Linked DNA regions of Homo sapiens: regions 1 and 2 are each linked to region 3. Evidence: fine-mapped expression QTL. A gene starts in region 3. Each other region holds a variant in brackets. All regions are shown on one strand. Distances are between the middles of the regions. Region 1 overlaps ZNF791 (zinc finger protein 791). Region 2 overlaps LOC105372279 (a long non-coding RNA gene). Region 3 holds the start of MAN2B1 (mannosidase alpha class 2B member 1).

The links. PIP is the estimated chance that this variant, and not a neighbour inherited with it, causes the effect. A credible set is the group of variants that fine-mapping cannot tell apart.
Region 1: its variant is the best candidate, but not a certain one, in a credible set for the expression of MAN2B1 in monocytes (BLUEPRINT, PIP 0.65).
Region 2: its variant is the best candidate, but not a certain one, in a credible set for the expression of MAN2B1 in whole blood (INTERVAL, PIP 0.87).

What each region holds. Positions count from the first base shown.
Region 1 is chr19:12,615,424-12,622,890 of GRCh38, reverse strand. The region is part of intron 1 of ZNF791 (zinc finger protein 791); the gene reads right to left. Among named protein-coding and RNA genes, the nearest start is that of ZNF791, 8.2 kb to the right of the region's middle. The variant ACACACACACACACT/T (reference allele first, on the strand shown) is at 4,069.
Region 2 is chr19:12,635,340-12,641,848 of GRCh38, reverse strand. LOC105372279 (a long non-coding RNA gene) reads left to right here. Exons shown (of 4, transcript XR_007067142.1): 2 at 1,447-1,784; 3 at 4,409-4,573. Among named protein-coding and RNA genes, the nearest start is that of ZNF791, 28 kb to the right of the region's middle. RefSeq lists enhancers at 1,624-1,743, 1,300-1,820, 1,774-1,843. The variant AG/G (reference allele first, on the strand shown) is at 2,352.
Region 3 is chr19:12,662,946-12,669,151 of GRCh38, reverse strand. It overlaps MAN2B1 (mannosidase alpha class 2B member 1), which reads left to right and starts at 2,410. Exons shown (of 24, transcript NM_000528.4): 1 at 2,410-2,609; 2 at 3,347-3,449; 3 at 3,627-3,800; 4 at 4,167-4,360; 5 at 5,317-5,449; 6 at 5,690-5,835. The coding sequence starts at 2,451. WDR83 (WD repeat domain 83) reads right to left here and starts at 2,345. Exons shown (of 11, transcript NM_001099737.3): 1 at 2,160-2,345; 2 at 525-644. WDR83OS (WD repeat domain 83 opposite strand) reads left to right here. Exons shown (of 4, transcript NM_016145.4): 2 at 1-24; 3 at 535-632; 4 at 727-1,079. The coding sequence ends at 793. RefSeq lists a silencer at 2,268-2,547 and enhancers at 2,798-2,927, 2,948-3,077, 3,138-3,187, 3,728-3,777, 2,844-3,791 and 2 more.

The DNA.
Region 1 (7,467 bases), 47 kb after region 3:
ACGGAGTCTCACTCTGTAACCCAGGCAGGAGTGCAGTGGTGCGATCTCGGCTCACTGCAACCTCCGCCCCTCCAGGTTTAAGCAATTCTCTGCCTCAGCCTCCGAAGTAGCTGGGATTATAGGCGCGTGCCACCACGCCCAGCTAATTTTTTGTATTTTTAGTAGAGATGGGGTTTCACCATCTTGGCTAGGCTGGTCTTGAACTCCCGACCTCGTGATCCACCCTCCTCGGCCACCCAAAGTGCTGGGATTACAGGCGTGAGCCACTGCCTCCGGCTGGGGTTTTGTTATATTGTCCAGGTTGACCTTTAACTCTCGGCCCCAAGTGATCCTCCTGCCCCGGCCTCCCAAAGTGTTGTGATAACAGGTATGAATAACCATACCCAGCCCACAGCCTAATTTCTTATTACCCAAATCATTCAGCATTCCTTAAGATATGGGATTAAATGAGGTGGAGGTTTTTTTTTTTTTTTTTTTTTGTTTGAGACAGTCTTTTTTTTATTATTTTTTTTATTTATTATTTTTTTTAATTTATTTTTTTATTGATAATTCTTGGGTGTTTCTCACAGAGGGGGATTTGACAGGGTCATGGGACAATAGTGGAGGGAAGGTCAGCAGATAAACAAGTGAACAAAGGTCTCTGGTTTTCCTAGGCAGAGGACCCTGCGGCCTTCCGCAGTGTTTGTGTCCCTGATTACTTGAGATTAGGGAGTGGTGATGACTCTTAACGAGCATGCTGCCTTCAAGCATCTGTTTAACAAAGCACATCTTGCACCGCCCTTAATCCATTTAACTCTGAGTGGACACAGCACATGTTTCAGAGAGCACAGGGTTGGGGGTAAGGTCACAGATCAACAGGATCCCAAGGCAGAGGAATTTTTCTTAGTGCAGAACAAAATGAAAAGTCTCCCATGTCTACTTTCTACACAGACACGGCAACCATCCGATTTCTCAATCTTTTCCCCACTTTTCCCGCCTTTCTATTCCACAAAGCCGCCATTGTCATCCTGGCCCGTTCTCAATGAGCTGTTAGGCACACCTCCCAGACGGGGTGGTGGCCGGGCAGAGGCGCCCCTCACCTCCCGGACGGGGCGGCTGGCCGGGCGGGGGGGCTGACCCCCCCCACCTCCCTCCCGGACGGGGCGGCTGGCCGGGCAGGGGGGCTGACCCCCCACCGAGGTGGAGGTTTTAATAAGTAAATACACATTGAGAATCTTCTATCCCCTTTTGTTATACATGAGAGGCCAGGAGGCTTGTGGAAATCCAACTTTTAAGAAGGTCTAGCTGCCTATATCGTCCTGAAGTATTTGAGGCCATCAGAAGCACTCAGATTCTGCTGACTGAATGGAAATACTCTTTTAGAGACGTATTAATTTCAACTTGTTTCCGATATATATATATCCCTATGTGTTGGCATTACAGGCATGAGCGACCACGCCCGGCTGTGTGTGTAATATCTATCATAGACCCAGTTTTTCCTTTTACTTTCTGTCCCATTTCGTGAGACTAGGAAGTTACTGGGAAGACAGCTCAGGCACAAGGAAGGGGCCCTCACAACTTAGACTTTCACAAAATCGTTATACCCATGAGCCTCAGAACTGCTTCCAACCAATTTTTAGCACAAATACATATACACATTGAGATAAAATGTCAGAAGAGCACTTTCTGGAAGATCCATAATCATGTCATCTGGGCTTTGCTGACCTTGAAGAATAGATTGACAGTATCAATTTTCAGGGGACTTCACTGATGTCCACAATGGTCTGATGGTGAATTTGCCCATGATTATAAAATTAACAGGTAATTTCATACCTCCAAAAGAACATAAAATCTGGGTCAGGATGGCTCATGCCTGTAATCCCAGCACTGTGGGAGGCCGAGGCAGGTGGATCACCTCAGGTCAGGAGTTCGAGACCACCCTGGCCAACATGGAGAAACCCTGCCTCTACTAAAAATACAAAAATTAGTTGGGCATGGTGGTGCATGCATGTAATCTCAGCTACTCGGGAGGCAGAGGCAGGAGAATCGCTTGAACCCGGGAGGCAGAGGTTGCAGTGAGCCAAGATCGCACCACTGCAGTCCAGCCTGGGCAACAGAGCGAGACTCTATCTCAAAAAAAAAAAAAAAAAAAAAAAAGAACATAAATCCCCTTTCTCCAGTTTCAGGAGGAAGTGATCCCAGACAGACACTCTAGGGGCTGTTGTCCCAGGTTCTCTCATTTCCATGCACTCATGTGCACCATACGTTAAAAGATCCACACAGTTAGAAGGGGTTTTCTTAAGTAATTAGGACTATGGTCTGAGCAGGAAGAAATTTGGCTCCAGGGAGCTCTCCCTCGTGACAAGTCCATCTGCATGCCTGGGTGCTCTCTGTAAGGTTTATTTACATTTACATTTAATAGAAAATAAACATTTTGGCCAGGCGTGATGGCTCATGCCTATAATCCCAGCACTTTGGGAGGCTGAGGTGGGCAGATCGTTTGAGCCCAGGAGTTCGAGACCAGCCTGGGCAACATGGTGAAACCCTGTCTCTATAAAATATACAAAACTTGGCCAGGCGTGGTGGTGCACGCCTGTGGTCTCAGCTACTTGGGAGGCTGAGGTGGGAGGATTGCTTGAGCCTGCAAAGTCAAGGCTGCAGTGAGCCATAACTATACCACTGCACTCCAGCCAAAAATAAATAAAGACAGGCCAGGTGCGGTGGCTCACACCTGTAATCCCAGCACTTTGGGAGGCCAAGGCAGGTGGATCACGAGGTCAGAAGATCGAGACCATCCTGGCTCTACTAAAAATACAAAAAATTAGCTGGGTGCCGTGGCGGGCGCCTGTAGTCCCAGCTACTCGGGAGGCTGAGGCAGGAGAATGGCGGGAACCCGGGAGGCGGAGCTTGCAGTGAGCCGAGATCGCGCCACTGCACTCCAACCTGGGCGACAGAGCGAGACTCCGTCTCAAAAAAATAAATAAATAAAATAAAAATAAATAAATAAATAAAGATTTCATATATAGCCTTTTACTAAATAATAAAAAGAAAAAAAAACAGAAAAAAAAGGTTCATCTCCTTGCTAATGAGGATATAAATGTCAAATAGTTCCCACTTCAAACTGAGTAGGAAGACAAAACTAGTCGATTAAGATAACATTAGTGGCCGGGCGCGGTGGCTCACGCCTGTAATCCCAGCACTTGGGGAGGCCGAGGCAGGTAGATCATGAGGTCAGGAGATCGAGAGCATCCTGGCTAACACAGTGAAACCCCGTCTCTACTAAAAATACAAAAAATTAGCCAGGAGAAGTGGCGGGCGCCTGTAGTCCCAGCTAGTCGAGAGGCTGAGGCAGGAGAATGGCGTGAACACGGGAGGCGGAGCTTGCAGTGAGCCCAGATCGCGCCACTGCACTCCAGCCTGGGAGACAAATCGAGACTCCGTCTCAAAAAAAAAAAAAAAAAAAAAAAGATAACATTAGTGTTGATGACTACAGAGAACAATCATGTACAAACGGAGGATCAACTGATACACTCCACCACTTTTTTTAAGTTTGTAAATTTAAACTTGACCAAGATCCAGTAATTTTTTTCCAACTACCAGAGAATTTATTGTGCGTTTGCACTTGCAGACTGAAACAAAAATAGTAGGAGCATTATTTTCCACAAAGCAAACAAAAACAAAACCGTGAAAAAGTCTAAACACCACAACCATTGGAACGGATAGCCTGCAGCTTCAGATACTAGCATATGAGAAATATACTGAGAGGTGGCCAGGCGTGGTGGCTCACGCCTGTAATCCCTAGCACTTTGGGAGGCCTAGGTGGGTGGATCACGAGGTCGAGACTGAGACCATCCTGACCAACATGGTGAAACTCCGTCGCTACTAAAAATACAAAAATTAGCTGGGCATGGTGGCTCATGCCTGTAGTCCCAGCTACTCGGGAGGCTGAAGCAGGAGAATCGCTTGAACCCAGGAGGCGGAGGTTGCAGTGAGCTGAGATCACACCACTGCACTCCAGCCTGGCAACAGAGTGAGACTCCATCTCAAAAAAATAAATAAATACACACACACACACACACACACACACAC[ACACACACACACACT/T]GAGAGGTAAACAAATCACCACAAAATTATTTATTTATTTATTTTGAGGTGGAGTTTTGCTCTTGTTCCCCAGGGTGGAGTGCAGTGGCATGATCTCGGCTCACTGCAGCCTCCGCCTCCCGGGTTCAAGCAATTCTCCTGTCTCAGCCTCCTGAGTAGCTGGGATTACAGGCACGCACCACCATACCCAGCTAATTTTTTGTATTTTAGTAGAGACAGGGTTTCACCATGTTGGCCAGGCTGGTCTTGAACTCCTAGCCTCAGGCGCGAGCCACCACACTCGGCCTTTATTTTATTTTTGAGACGGGGTCTCATTGTTGCCCAGGCTAGAGTACAGTGGTGCAGTCACGGCTCACAGCAGCCTCGACTTCCCGGGCTCAAGCAATCTTCCCGCCTCAGACTCCTGAGTAGCTGGGACTACAGGTGTGCATCACCATGCCTGGCTAATTTTTTCATTTTTTGTAAAGATGGGTCTCACTATGTTGCCTAGGCTCCAAAAAACCCTTTAAGTGTAATTCCATTAATACTCATTAAATGTTCAAAGGAGGCAAAAATTTAAAAATACAATACTTGTGAAAAAGAATAGATGGTTGGTGGACGTGGTGGCTCACGCCTGTAATCCCAGCACCTTGCAAAGCCAAGGTGGGTGGATCACCTGATGTCAGGAGTTGGAGACCAGCCTAGCCAACATGGTGAAACTCCATCTCTACTAAAAATACAAAAATTAGCCGGGCATGATGGTGTGCACCTGTAATCCCAGCTACCTGTGAAGCTGAGGCAGGAGAATCGCTTGAACCCAGTGGATGGAGGTTGCAGTGAGCTGAGTTCTTGCCTCTGCACTCCAGCCTGGGCGACAAGGACGAAACTCTGTCTCAAAAAAAAAAAAAAAAAAAAAGCAAAATTTAGCCCTGTATGTGGCACGCACCTGTAGTTCCAGCTACTCAGAAGGCTGAGGTGGTGGTTGTAGTAGGCTGAGATCATGCCACTGCATTCCAGCCTGGTGACAGGGTAATACCCTGTCTCCAAAAAAAAAAAAAAAAAAAAAAAAGAGTTCCAGCAGGTAGAAAATCAGAAAGGACAAAGTTTAGTTGAAAGGCAACAACTGGGTTTAATTAAAATCCATGAATGCTTCATCCAACAGAACAACACACATTCTTCTCAAGTTCATGTGGAACATTCACCAAGATAAACCATGTTGTGGACAAAAACACACCTTAACAATTTTCAAAGAATATACATTATATAAAATATGCTCTCAGACCACCATGGTATTAATCTAGAAATCAGTAACAGAAGAATAGTTAGAAAACCATCAAATATTTGGAAATAAAACCCAACACAGTTCTAAACATGAATCAAAAAAATCTCAAGAAAAATTAAATTTGGGCCGGGCGCAGTGACTCATGCCTGTAATCCCAGCACTCTGGGGGGCCAAGGTGGGCGGATCACGAGGTCAGGAGTTCGAGACCAGCCTGGCCAACATGGTGAAACCCCATCTCTACTAAAAATAAAAAAATTAGACAGGCATGGTGGCACGTGCCTGTAATCCCAGCTACTTGAGAGGTTGAGGCAGGAGAATCGCTTGAACCCGGGAGGCGGAGGATGCAGTGAGCCAAGACTGCACCACTGCACTCCAGCCTGAGTGACACAGCAAGACTCCGTCTCAAAAAAAAAAAAAAAAGAAGAAAAAAGAAAAATTAAATGTGAATTAAATGAAAATAGAACTTATCAAAATTTGTGGAATGCAACAAAAATAGTACCTAAGTGAAATTTATACTATTAAACTCTCATACACCCACAAAAAATTTATACATGGATCTTACACCTTTCACAAAAATTAAGCCCAAATCGATCATAGATGTAAATGTAACATGCAAAACTATCCACTTGGCTTTGGTGATGAATTTTTAGATAAACCACTAAAAGCACAATCTATGAAAGGAAAAAATAAGTTTCACTTCATTAAAATGAAAAACTCCTACTCTGTGAAAGAAAGTGTTAAAAGAATAAAAATAAAAGGCACAGACAGATTTTTGCAAATCTTCACAAAAGCACTTATCTGATTAAGGACTAGTATCTAAAATATCCAAAGAATTCTTTTTGTTTTTCTTTTTTTTTGAGACAGTCTTGCTCTGTTGCCCAGGGTGGAGTGCAGTGGTGCAATCTCGGCTCACTGCAACCTCTGCCTCCTAGGCTCAAGCGATTCTCATGCCTCAGCCTCCCAAATAGCTGGGACTACAGGGGTGTGCCACCCACATTGGGCTAATTTTTTTTCTCCGATCCCTTGGCAGCTCCAGCCCCAGCACCACTTCTCAGCTCTGCTCCCCAGCAGCCTGGGTGGCCCCACATGAGCTACCATGCCTAGCGTCCTTTTTGTTTTTTTGAGATAGGATCCATTATGTTGCCCATGCTGGGCTTATAATCCTGGGTGCAGGCAATCCTCCCACTTTAGCCTCTGGAGTAGCTGGGATGACAAGCGTGTACCACCATGCCTGCCTCCAATTCGAACTCTTAAATCTCAACAAAAATAAGACAAATGAACCAGTGAAAAATGAGCAAAAGACCTGAACACACCCCTCACCAATGAAAGATATACAGATGGCAAATACACATATGAAGAGATGCTCAATTATATGTCACTAAGGAGCTGCAAATAAAACTGAAGAGATATCACTTTACACTTATTAGAACGTACAAAGTTCAAAATGCTGAGAACAGCAATGGATAGCAAAGATGTAGACAACAAGAATTCTCATTCCTTGCCAATGGAAATGGAAAATGGTATGTCTACTTTGGAAGATAGGCAGTTTCTAACAAAACAAAACGTCCTCTTACCAGTGGACCATGCAATCACATTCCTTGCTATTTACTCACATGAGTTGAAAAATACTGTTCATACAAAAACCTGCCCATGAATATTTACAGGAGGTTTCTTCATAACTGCCAAATTTAAGACTTAACCAAGACATCATGCAACAGGTTTATGGATAAACAATCTGTGGTACAATCTTTTTTTTTTTTTTTTTTTTGAGACGGAGTCTTGCTCTTGTTGCCCAGGCTGGAGTGCAATGGCACTATCTCGGCTCACTGCAACCTCCACCTTCCAGGTTCAAGCAATTCTCCTGCCTCAGCCTCCCAGGTAGCTGAGATTACAGGTGTGCGCCACCACACCCAGCTAATTTTTGTATTTTTAGTAGAGACGGGGTTTTGTCATGTTGGCCAGGCTGGTCTCAAACTCCTGACCTTGTGATCCGCCCGCCTCGGCCTCCCAAAGAGCTGGGATTACAGGCATGAGCCATCGTGCCCGGCCGGTACAATCTTATGATGAAATATTGTTCAACGATAAGAGAAATCAGGTATCAAGCCATGAAGACACAGAAGGACC
Region 2 (6,509 bases), 27 kb after region 3:
TTACAGTCATGAGCCCATGCCCAGCCTACTGGAAAAGTTTTCTAGGTCCCCTTCCTGGGGCCAGGATCGCAGCCAGGGACCCCAGAGGGCACACAGCTCCTGCCCACCGACTCACATAAGGTACCGTCGCAGAAAGTGCGTCCTGAAATTTTTCCCAAGGCCCCTTTTAAGAAGGGACACTCGCCCAGGCATACAGGGAGGATGAAGGAGGGCACCCAGACCCCAGCTGCAGTTTCCATGGCGACCATTCATCGGACACCTTCAGAAAACGTCTGGAGGGATGACTGGGGCCAAACAGGGAGGGCTAAGGGTGGGCGACTTGGACTTGGTCACAGTCCTATGCAGACGCGTCTGAAGCACCTGCTGAAAACGTTGCCAATTCTGAGTGATAGGAGATAGGAATAGGGGCATGAAGAGAGGGACGGGGAGGGTAAAAGGAGGGGGATCACTGGGAGCCGCAGAAGCAGTGGCGGGGAAAGCAGGGGGAAGGGGAGGTAGAGGGATGGTTTTGATGGGAGAAGGAGGTTCTGAGTAGGATATTGTTGTGGCTTCATTCCCCTGTGGGCCTTCCCAAATGTTCCTTTTTTTTCTTTTCTCTTTCTTTTTCTTTCCCTCCCTCACTCCCTCCCTCCTTTCTTTCTTTCCCTTCCCTCCCTTCCTTCCATCTTGAATGTTCTTCTTCATTTTCTTTCCTTTTTTTTGAGACAGACTTTCACTCTTGTGGGTTATTTTTTATTTATTTTTTTTTTTGGTGTTTTGTTTTGAGACAGAGTTTTACTCTTGTTGCCCAGGCTGGAGTGCAATGGCGGGATCTTGGCTCACTGCAACCTGCTCTTCCCGGGTTCAAACGATTCTCCTACCTGAGCCTCCCTAGTAGCTGGGATTACAGGCATGCGCCACCACACCCAGCTAATTTTTGTATTTTTAGTAGAGAAGGGTTTTCTCCATGTTGGTCAGGCTGGTCTCGAACTCCCAATTTCAGGTGAGCTGCCCGCCTCGGCCTCCCAAAGTGCTGGGATTACAGGCGTGAGCCGCCGCGCCCGGCCTCTTTTTCCTTTTCTCTTTCTTTTTCCCTCCTTCCCTCCCTCCCTCTCTCCCTTCCTTCCTCCCTCCTTCCACCCTCCCTCTCCCTCTCTCTTTCATTTTTTTTGGTTTGTTTTTGTTTTTTGTTTTATTTTTCCCGCGACCGAGTCTCGCTGTCACCCAGGCTGCTGTGCAATGATGCGATCATAGCGCACTGCATCATCTCCAGGGCACATCTCTCCTCCCGCCTCGGCCTCCCAAAGTGTTGAGGTGGTAGGCATGAGGCATCCAGCAGGGCTTCATTCACATTTTCTGTCTGCCTATGGAGGCTGGGATCAGCCCTGGCCATTCAGGGAGTTCCGTGGAGGGTGCCCCGGGCCCACCAGGCCATCCTCTGACCGCTTTGGGCCGAGTGTATTACAGGTTCATGTGGGACCCGAACCAGGCGGTGTAGACTGGGGAAAGTGCCTGTCTGGTGAGGTCCGGCGGGTGTTCGAGCGCCACCTAGGGTCAGTCTGATGCCATCCCCTGAGCTTGGCTGCCGCGTGTATGGGAAGTGATCTGGCTGCAAACCGCAAGAGAGAGTTCCAGGAGGTCGCCGGCGATGACAGAGTCTTCTCGGCTACGACACGCGCCGCCCCATCATGGGCTCTCCTGAGATCGTTACTGCGTGTTGCGGGCGAGCAGTCTCTGAGAATCTCGCGGGCTGAATGTCGCATGAGGTCCCCTCCGCCCGTGGGGACTGGCTGCTGCCGTCGCAGGTGAGCGGAGTAGGGTGCCCTGAGCTTGGCCGCTTTCCCACCTGGTGCCTGCTTGCCCACAGCTTCATTGGCGTTTTCTAGGTCCCCCTGCTGGGGCCAGGATCACAGTCAGGAAGGTCCTCGGACTGCTGTGGGAAGGGCCCCAGGTTCTGCCCACCGCCAGATTGGGCCTGGTAGTTAGATGAGTCCTGAAGACACTTCTAAGCCCCCCTACACAGCTGGGGCCAGGCTGGCCCTGGAGGCTGGAGGGATTAAGTATTCCTGTGATTCTTTGTGGGCCCAGTTATATTTATCCGTTGAACAAGTTTCCAAGACCTCCTGCAGGCTGGCTAGGGATACCTGAAGAAGGCTTCCTGGCTTGGCTGTGGTCACATGCGAGGGGCCTTTTTGATGAATACACTTGAACAAAAGTTTGCTTTTATTAGAAATGGTAGCCAGTTGCGGTGGCTCACTCCTGTAATCCCAACACTTTGGGAGGCCGAGGTGGGTGGATCTCTTGAGGTCACGAGTTCCAGACCAGCCTGGCCAACATGGTGAAACCTGTCTCTACTAAAAATAAAAAAAAAA[AG/G]GCTGGGCCCGGTGGCTCACGCCTGTAATCCCAGCACTTTGGGAGGCTGAAGCGGGCGGATCACGAGGTCAGGATATCGAGACCATCCTGTCTAACATGGTGAAACCCCGTCTCTACTATAAATACAAAAAAACAGCCGGGTGTGGTGGCGGGTGCCTGTAGTCCCAGCTACTCGGGAGGCTGAGGCAGGAGAATGGCATGAACCCCGGAAGGGGAGCTTGCAGTGAGCCGAGATTGCGCCACGGCACTCCAGCCTGGGCGACAGAGCAAGACTCCGTCTCAAAAGCAAAAAACAAAAAACAAAAAACAAATTAGCCGAGCGTGGTGGCGGGCAACTGTAATTCCAGCTACTTAGGAGGTTGAGGCAGGAGAATCGCTCAAACCTGGGAGGTAGAGGTTGCAGTAAGCTGAGATTGCACCACTGCACTCCCGCCTGGACGACAGAGCAAGACTCAGTCTCAAAAAAGGATGGGGTCTTGCTATATTGCCCAGGCTGATCTTGAACTCCTGGGTTCAAGCCATATAACGCCTCGGACTCCCAAAATGTTGGGATGACTTCCCTTACCCACCGTTCCCTGCCTTCTCCACGTTTGCTGAGTTGGCCTATTGAGGCCAGGGCCAGCCTTGGCCATTCAGGGAGTTCTGTGGAAAGTGCCCCGGGTCCACCAAGGCAGCCTCTGATATCTTGGGGCCGCGGTACAGGTTAGAGTGAGACCCGGACAAGGTGGCCTCTGCTGAGGGTCGGGGTCCAATCCGGCGGGGTCTTGCCGGTGATTGGGAATTACCTGTTTGTTGGCGTTTATATTTTCTTTTCTTTTTTTTTTTTTTTTTTGAGACGGAGTCTGGCTCTGTCGCCCAGGCTGGAGTGCAGTGGCGCCATCTTGGCTCCCTGCAAGCTCCGCCTCCCGGGTTCACGTCATTCTTCTGCCTCAGCCTCCCGAGTAGCTGGGACTACAGGCGCCCGCCACCACGCCTGAATAATTTTTTGTATTTTTAATAGAGATGGGGTTTCACTGTGTTAGCCAGGAAGGTCTCGATCTCCTGACCTCGTGATACGCCTGCCTCGGCCTCTCAAAGTGCTAGGATTACAGGCGTGAGCCACCACGCCCGGCCTGACGTTTATATTTTCTCCCTGGAGCTAGCCTGCTGCATAGGTGGGATAAGATTCTGCCATGATGCTCAGAATCCAGTTCAGTTCCTGGAAGCCAGGGGCAATGGCAGGATCTTCTCTACAGGCGCCAGTCTGTAGACAGGCTCTCCTGAGATTGTCACTGCAGGACGGGGGTGAGTGATTTCTAAGAATTCTGAAGGCCTACTGGCCCGCGGAGGTCCCCTCCGCTTCTGAGGACCGCCTTGAGCGGTCGCACGTGACTGGGGTCGCCCTCCTGAGGACAGGATCGCAGCCAGGGAGGCCCAGGAAGGCACCTTGCTCCTGGCCTCCAACTCACGTGGGGCACCGTCGCTGAGAGTGAGTCCTGAAATCTTTTCCAAGTCGCCCACCCCGTTTTTTTTTTTTGTTTTTTTTTTTTGAGAGAGTCTCGCTCTGTTGCCCAGGCTGGAGTGCGGTGGTGTAATCTCGGCTCACTGCAACCTCTGCCTCCTGGGTTCAAGCGATTCTCCTGCCTCAGCCTCCCAAGTAGCTGGGATTACAGGCGCCCGCCACCACGCCCGGCTAATTTTTGTATTTTTAGTACGGACGGGGTTTCATCATGTTGGCCAGCTGCTCTGGAACTCCTGACCTCATGATCCACCCGCCTCGGTCTCTCAAAGTGCTGGGATTACAGGCGTGAGCCACCGCACCCAGCCCCAACTCTCCCTCTTAAGAGGACACGGGCTCAGGCTGACAAAGAGGCTTTTAGGATGCCACCTAAAGCTCAGCTGCAGTTCCCACTGTGCGTATTCATCAGACACTTACAGAAAACCTTGGTGATATGGTTTGGCTGTGTGTCCCCAACCAAATCTCATGTTCAATTTTAATTTCTAATACCAGGAGAGGGACCTGCTGGGAGGTGATTAGATCATGGGGGCGGCTTTCCCCTTGCTGTTCTCGTGATAGTTCTCAGGAGATCTGATGGTTTAAAGATGTGCGGCACTTCCCACTTCGTGCTCTCTCCTGATCCCTCCTGCTTCAAGTGAAGACTGACTCGATCCCCAGTAGCCTTCCGCCTTGATAAGTTTCCTGAGGCCTCCCAGCCTTGCTTCCTGTACAGCCTGCAGAACTGTGAGTCAATTAAACCTCTTTTATTCGTGAATTACCCAGCCTCAGGTAGTTTTTTTCTTTTTTCTTTTTTTTGAGACGGAGTTTCACTCTTGTTGCCCAGGCTGGAGTGCAATGACGTGATCCCCGCTCACTGCAACCTCTGCCTCCCGGGTTCAAGGGATTCTCCTGCTTGAGCCTCCTGAGTAGCTGGAATTACAGACGTGAGCCATGACGCCCGGCTAATTTTTTTATTATTAGTAGTAGAGATGGGGTTTCACCATGTTAGTCAGGCTGGTCTCAAACTCCTGACCTCAGGTGATCCACCCGCCTCAGCCTCCCAAAGTGCTGTGATTACAGGCGTGAGCCATCGCGCCCAGCTCAGGTAGTTCTTTATAGCAGCGCGAGAATGGAGCAACACACTTGGGAAGGATCATTCAGGCTAAACAGGGAGGTCAGGGGAGGGCGACTTGCACCTGGTCACAGTCCTGCACAGGCGCATCTGAATCACCTGCTGGAAACGTTTCCAGTTCGGCGGGGCCGCACAGGGGCAAGAGGTGATAAAGTGGGGAAGAGGAGACAAAGTGGGGAAAGAGGGGAAAAAGGGGGATGAAGGCTGGAGGGGGCCAGGATGGGGCGGGGCAGGGTAGGTCTTGGGGAGGGGAGGGCAAAGGGTAGGGATGGCCTTGATGGGACAAGGAGTTTATGATTAAAATGCCCTGGTGGCTTTATTCCCCTGTGCGCCTTCCAAAAATATTTCTTCTTATCTCTCATTTTGTTTTTACTTTTAAGAGACAAGGTTGGCCGGGCGCGGTGGCTCACGTCTGTAATCCCAGCACTTTGGGAGGCTGAGGCAGGTGGATCACCTGAGGTCAGGAATTTGAGACCAGCCTGGCCAACATGGTGAAATCCCGTCTCTACTAAAAATATAAAAATTAGCCGGGCGCGGTGGCGGGCGCCTGTAATCCCAGCCACTCGGGAGGCTGAGGCAGGAGAATCGCTTGAACCCGGGGGGCGGAGGTTGCAGTGAGCCGGTATCGCACCACTGCACTTCAGCCTGGGCGACAGAGTGAGACTCCGTCTCAAAAAAAAAAAAAAAAAAAAAAAAAGGAAAGAAAGAAAGAAAATACATTACAGGGTTCCACCAGGCAGCACACCCAGAGAGGAGCTAACTGCAAGGAGACAAAGGCTTGGTGGGGATTTTAGAGAATGGTGCTTTGGCCGGGTGCAGTGGCTCACGCCTGTAATCTCAGCACTTTGGGAGGCCGAGGCGGGCGGATCACGAGGTCAGGAGATCGGGACCATCCTGACTAACACGGTGAAACCCCATCTCTACTAAAAATATAAAAACAAAATTAGCCAGGCATGGTGGCGGGTGCCTATAGTCCCAGCTACTCAGGAGGCTGAGGTGGGAGAATGGCGTGAACCCAGGAGGCGGAGCTTGCAGTGAGCCAATATCGCGCCACTGCACTCCAGCCTGGGTGGCAGAGCAAGACTCCTTCTCAAAAAAAAAAAAAAAAAAAAAAAGGACTCATAAGTTCTGCCCTAGATCAAAGCAACCTTAATGTGGTACAAATTATAGGCTATGACACACATAGCATTCTTGCCTGTTTTGGAAGGTGGCTGACATGAACTGTGTCACCCAGGTCTGAGTGCAGTGGCATGATCATGGCTCACTGCAGGCTCGAACTCTTGGGCTCAAGCCATCCTCCCACCTCAGCCTCTGGAGTAGCTGGAATCACAGGTGTGCCCCACCACACCCAGCTAATTTTTTACTTTTGTAGAGATGGGGTCTCAGTTCTTTTTTTTTTTCCTTTTTTCTCCTTCCCTTCCTTCCTTCCTTCTCTCATATCTCTGCTTTTCTTTCTTTTGCTTTCTTTCTCTTTCCTTTCTTTTTCTTTCTTTCTCTCTTTTTCTTTTCTTTCTCTCTCTGTCTTTTCTTTTTTCAACACGACTGAGC
Region 3 (6,206 bases):
AGCATGTGCGGCCTCATGCTTAAGGTGGGCGGGGTTGAGCTTCTATGGGTGTAGTTGGACCTGAGAACGAGGCCCGGGGGCGGGTTTGGAATGAAGCGGGGTGTCTTGTCATTGCTGATGGGGCGGGACCTGAGATCGGCCGGGAGTGGGGCTGCGATGACGCTGGGCCGAGAAAGCCCCAGTCTTTGGTGAAGTCAAGGATTCGAGTCAGGTTGGGGATGTGGCAGATTGGTCTGCGAGTGGGGCCAGGCTTTGAAGCAACTTGGAGAGGAGTTGTGGAAAAAGGGCAGGGTCTTAAGCATGTGGGATGTCAGAGTCTCTCTTGGTCCTGAGAGACGCAGGCCAGACAGTAGGACTAGAAACCACGTATCTAGAGTATGCCATGAGCAGGTGGGACTGAGGAATTCCGGGTGGGGCAAGGTCCCAGCTGCATCAGATGGAATCAGTGGGCATGATCTGGTGTCTGGAAAGGTGGCTTCGGGGACTCATTGTTGTGCCTTTCACTAACCTGCCCACCCACTTACCTTTCCCTAGCTGAAGTGGTGTGCTTGGGTCGCTGTCTACTGCTCCTTCATCAGCTTTGCCAACTCTCGGAGCTCGGAGGACACGAAGCAAATGATGAGTAGCTTCATGTGAGACTTGCCCTACAGAACAAGTGACTCTTGAGTAAGGGGTGGGGGGACCCCAGCCTGGCCATCCTAGACTGACACCTCTCTCCTGTCTCAGGCTGTCCATCTCTGCCGTGGTGATGTCCTATCTGCAGAATCCTCAGCCCATGACGCCCCCATGGTGATACCAGCCTAGAAGGGTCACATTTTGGACCCTGTCTATCCACTAGGCCTGGGCTTTGGCTGCTAAACCTGCTGCCTTCAGCTGCCATCCTGGACTTCCCTGAATGAGGCCGTCTCGGTGCCCCCAGCTGGATAGAGGGAACCTGGCCCTTTCCTAGGGAACACCCTAGGCTTACCCCTCCTGCCTCCCTTCCCCTGCCTGCTGCTGGGGGAGATGCTGTCCATGTTTCTAGGGGTATTCATTTGCTTTCTCGTTGAAACCTGTTGTTAATAAAGTTTTTCACTCTGGCTGTCAGCCTCTTCTGTTCAGTGGGGTGTTCCTCCTACCTGGCGGGAAGGGCTCTAGCCCCATAGGCCTGGTGTGGGGCCCCAGTCTGGAGGCTTCTGGCTGTTCATTTGCTTACTTCATAAACCTTGTGTCTTAAGTCAGGTGCTAGGGACAAGACAGTGACTTCTGCCCTCTGGCAACTCACCAGATGGCCCTGCTGACCTAGATAATCTAGGCTTTGGTTTCCTTTTTTTTTTTTCCTTTTTAAGAAAGAAAATGGTCTTGATCTGTCATGCAGGCTGAGTGCAGTGGCACAATCTATGTTCACTGCAGCCTCAAACTCCTGGGCTCAAGCAATCCTCCCACCTCAGCCTGCCACGTAACTGGGACCACAAATGCGTGCTACCATGCCCAGTTAATTCTTGTTTTTTTTGAGACAGAGTTTTGCTCTTGTTGCCCAGGCTGGAGGGCAATGGCATGATCTTGATCTCGGCTCACTGCAACCTCCGCCTCCCAGGTTCAAGTGATTCTCCTGCCTCAGTCTCCCAAGTAGCTGGGATTACAGGCATGTGCCACCATGCCCAGCTAATTTTTGTATTTTTACATTTTGTGTAAAATTACAAATTTTGTGTTTTCAAACCCGTCTCTACAAAACAACCCATGTTGCCCAGGCTGGTCTCAAACTCCCAGGCCCAAGTGATTCACCAGCCTGGCCCTCCCAAAGTGCTGGGATTGCAGGCTTGAGCCACTGCGCCTGCCCTGGGCTTTGTTTTCTTATCAGAGAATGAACTGGTAGGAATTGGGAAAGGCATGAAAGACTCGGGGTCCTTCCCCACTTGTCAGACCCTCTTTTCTCTCCGGAACACCCAGGGATCCTTCTCAACCAGGCTGGATCCCATCCCTGGTACTCCAGGGGTATTTACCCAACGTCCCAATCCCCACAGTATAGGACTCTTCATCAGATCCTCCTCTTAGGCAAGCTAGGTCCTTCCAGGACCCTAGCGCTGAAGGTCCATGGGACGGACACCCTGGATTCCCATGGACACACTACACCGGCTAGGAAAACCCGGCCCCCTTAGGAAAAGCACTTCTGCTCCTACCGGCATTAAGAGGCATTCCGTCTTGGAATTCCGGCATTAAGAGGCATTCCGTCTTCATAGCCCGTGAGACGCCAGTGTCACCTTTAGCCCAACCAGTGCCCTGAGGGTGGCATTTTCCTACCTTCCTGTAACGACCCCCGGGATTGCCCAGGGCTACAGCCTCTCTCCCGTGAGCCTCCAGACCGCGCCCTGGCCCCGCCCCCCACCCCGATTGGCCCGGCCGGGTCTGGGGGCGGGGCGTTTGCCCGGCCTTTCCAGGGCCGGGGAACCCCAGGAGGAAGCTGCTGAGCCATGGGCGCCTACGCGCGGGCTTCGGGGGTCTGCGCTCGCGGCTGCCTGGACTCAGCAGGCCCCTGGACCATGTCCCGCGCCCTGCGGCCACCGCTCCCGCCTCTCTGCTTTTTCCTTTTGTTGCTGGCGGCTGCCGGTGCTCGGGCCGGGGGATACGAGGTGAGTGGGGCCTCCGAGCTGAAACGTACAGGAGGCAGAGTGAAACCCAGAATACAGTCTAGAGGTGTGGGTGGGTCTGTCCTGTGGGTGTCTAGTGAATGGCTGATGATATGACAGTGTGGTCTGAGTGCGTGCTTTGTGTCATTGCGAGGTCTGGCTGTGCGCATCTGAGTATAGGACTGTGTCTGATTGTACCTGCCTCCGTGTCTCCGGGATGCTTGCCTAGACTTTGTCTGCACTTAACTGTGGGATTGGAGGGGCAGGAGGTGGCAGGGGGTGAGCAGTGTATGTGTGGGGGGAGGTGCTGGCTGAGAGCTGGGACTCTGGAGTCTGCCTGAAATTCCAGCCTAGCTCTTACACTTCCTGAGTGTGTGACGTTGGGCAAGTCACCTATCCTCTCTAAGCCTCAGTGCCTTCATCTGGAAACTGGGGATAACATCACCCCACCTCCCACGGTGGCCGTCTGCTGTCGGCAAATGCTGAACAAACATCAGCTACTTCTATTATTATTTTCCCGGAGTGTGAATGAGAGCTGCCCTGTGGGGTTGTGCAAAGTGGAGTTGTATCTATGAGCACAACTATGTATGTGTGTGTCCTGCCTGGGAGGGCCTGGCCTCCTCTGCACATAGGCGAGATCAGGCCTCTCTGAGTCACTCACCTCTAGATCAAGACTTACTCTGCAGCCCCCGACCTCGGGGGTTATTGACAAGGTATGTGTGTTTGGGGTCCCTGTGCAGACATGCCCCACAGTGCAGCCGAACATGCTGAACGTGCACCTGCTGCCTCACACACATGATGACGTGGGCTGGCTCAAAACCGTGGACCAGTACTTTTATGGAAGTGAGTAGAGGATGGGGACTGGTCCCTGGGATCCCCATGGTCCCTGTAATCCCTCTGGGTCCTGGACATTAGGGTGGGGCCAGTGCTACCCTAATATCCAGGGTTTGGGCTCCTCTGTCTAGGAATAACCCCCTTGGCTCTGCTGTTCCCTGAGAGCCTTATCCCTGTTATCCACAGTCAAGAATGACATCCAGCACGCCGGTGTGCAGTACATCCTGGACTCGGTCATCTCTGCCTTGCTGGCAGATCCCACCCGTCGCTTCATTTACGTGGAGATTGCCTTCTTCTCCCGTTGGTGGCACCAGCAGACAAATGCCACACAGGAAGTCGTGCGAGACCTTGTGCGCCAGGGTGAGCCTACCCCAAGGAAGTGAAAAGAGGAAGCCCAGCCCAGCTTCTGCTTCTGCATCTCTGGTTTCTGAGATTTGTCATGCCACGTGCAAGCTGTATAACATGCGTGTCGCTCCGCCTGCCTGGACTCTCCATTTGGAGACCTCCTATACATCCCACAAAGCCCCACCTGCTGTGCATCCTCTGGGAAGCCTGCCATGCAGGGGGCCTCTTTCCCATATCTGGGAACTATGGCCTGGGAGCGACCCCTCTTGTCCTTCCGCCAGAAATGTGTACACAGGCAGGCTTTCACATTCCCAGTATCACCCACCCTACTCCCACTCCTGGCTCTGACCGCTGACCCTGACCTTGCCTGTCCTGGCACAGGGCGCCTGGAGTTCGCCAATGGTGGCTGGGTGATGAACGATGAGGCAGCCACCCACTACGGTGCCATCGTGGACCAGATGACACTTGGGCTGCGCTTTCTGGAGGACACATTTGGCAATGATGGGCGACCCCGTGTGGCCTGGCACATTGACCCCTTCGGCCACTCTCGGGAGCAGGCCTCGCTGTTTGCGCAGGTGCGACCCGGGACCTCTCTTGGGCCCACTTCTTCACTCACTCTGGCTCCTCCCTCGCCCAGTCAAACCCCGCCCTCTCCCTGCAATCTCACAAGGACCAGGCCCAGGCCTAGGCCTGTTGAAGCCCTGCCCCTTGAGTGAGCCGTAAAGCCAGTGGCTTTTGAGCTCTGGCCTCAGCCGGCTATGCCCAGCCCAGGCTGACCCAGCTCCGGCTGGCTCCGCCCTCTCCCCTAATAGGCCCCTCTTGGTGTTCTGGCCCCACCCACTAGCTCGGGTCCTGGCTCCTCCCTAAACCGGGTGGCAAGTGGATGCCTAGGCTGCCTTAAAAACAGGTTCATTACCTGTGCTCAGACCCCATCCATCCTCAGGCTGTGGAAGGGGGAACCTCATTCCTGGAGTCAGGCCTGCTCTGCGCTTTGACAGTGCTGGGGAGGTGAACCTGGGTTCTGATGTTGGACCCGCCCTCTCCCTGCTAGCCCAAGGTGGTGAGTTCTGAAACTTCCCCAAGCTTGGAAATAAGCTGGAGGCCTCTCTGTTTCAGCCCTACGTGTTTTTGTTTTTGTTTTTTGAGACAGGGTCTTGCTGTCATCCAGGCTGGAGTGCAGTGGTGCAATCCTAACTCACTATAGCCTCAATCTCCCGGATTCAAGCGATTCTCCTGTCTCAGCCCCCCTAGTAGATGAGACTACAAGAGCGCACCACTACGCCTGGCTAATTTTTAAATTTTTTGTAGACAGTCTGCCCGTGTTGTGCAGGCTGGTCTCAAAAACTCCTGGGTTTAAGTGATCCTCCTGTTTTGGCCTCCCAGAAGGCTGGGATCATAGGCAAGAGCCACCACATCGACCTAGCACTGCTTTTTAACCTGTGCTCTGACCTGCCCCTCCCAAGCAGAGGGGAGTTTGGTGGTGAGAGGGCTGGGCACTAATTCACACTGCCTTTTCCTCCCTCATCCCCAGATGGGCTTCGACGGCTTCTTCTTTGGGCGCCTTGATTATCAAGATAAGTGGGTACGGATGCAGAAGCTGGAGATGGAGCAGGTGTGGCGGGCCAGCACCAGCCTGAAGCCCCCGACCGCGGACCTCTTCACTGGTAGGGGGCTTGGTGAGGGCAGGGCCAGCCATGGTGCCACACACTCAGAAGGGCCCTGGGCTTGATATCTGCTCTGTTGTCACTGTCCTGGAATTCCTATAGTCTGGGAACAAAGGCCCTGCATTTCCTTTTGCATTGGGACACAAATTCTGAAGCCCATCCTGGGTGGGACATGGCCGGCTTTGAAACCAGGGAAGGTCTGGGTGATGGGCCACCCCTTGAACTTGGTGTGACCTGCAGGTGTGCTTCCCAATGGTTACAACCCGCCAAGGAATCTGTGCTGGGATGTGCTGTGTGTCGATCAGCCGCTGGTGGAGGACCCTCGCAGCCCCGAGTACAACGCCAAGGAGCTGGTCGATTACTTCCTAAATGTGGCCACTGCCCAGGTAACCCTGGTGTCCAGAACCTTCGAGTCCGGTATATACAATACAATGAGCTCTTTCCATGGTACAGGCATCCCCTAACACGTTCTCCTTATTTTTAATTTTTTTGAGACAGTCTTACTCTGTCACCCAGGCTGGAGTGCAGTGGTGCGATCTCGGCTCACTGCAACCTCTGCCTCCTGGGTTCAAACAAGCACATCCAGCTAATTTTTGTATTTTTGCACTGGGGTCTCATCATGTTGTCCAGGCTGGTCTCAAACTCCTGAGCTCAAGTGATCTGCTTGCCTCGGCCTCCCAAAGTGCCGGGATTACAGGCATGAGCCACCGCACCTGGCCTCTATTTTTAACATTTTTATTTATTTATTATTATTTTT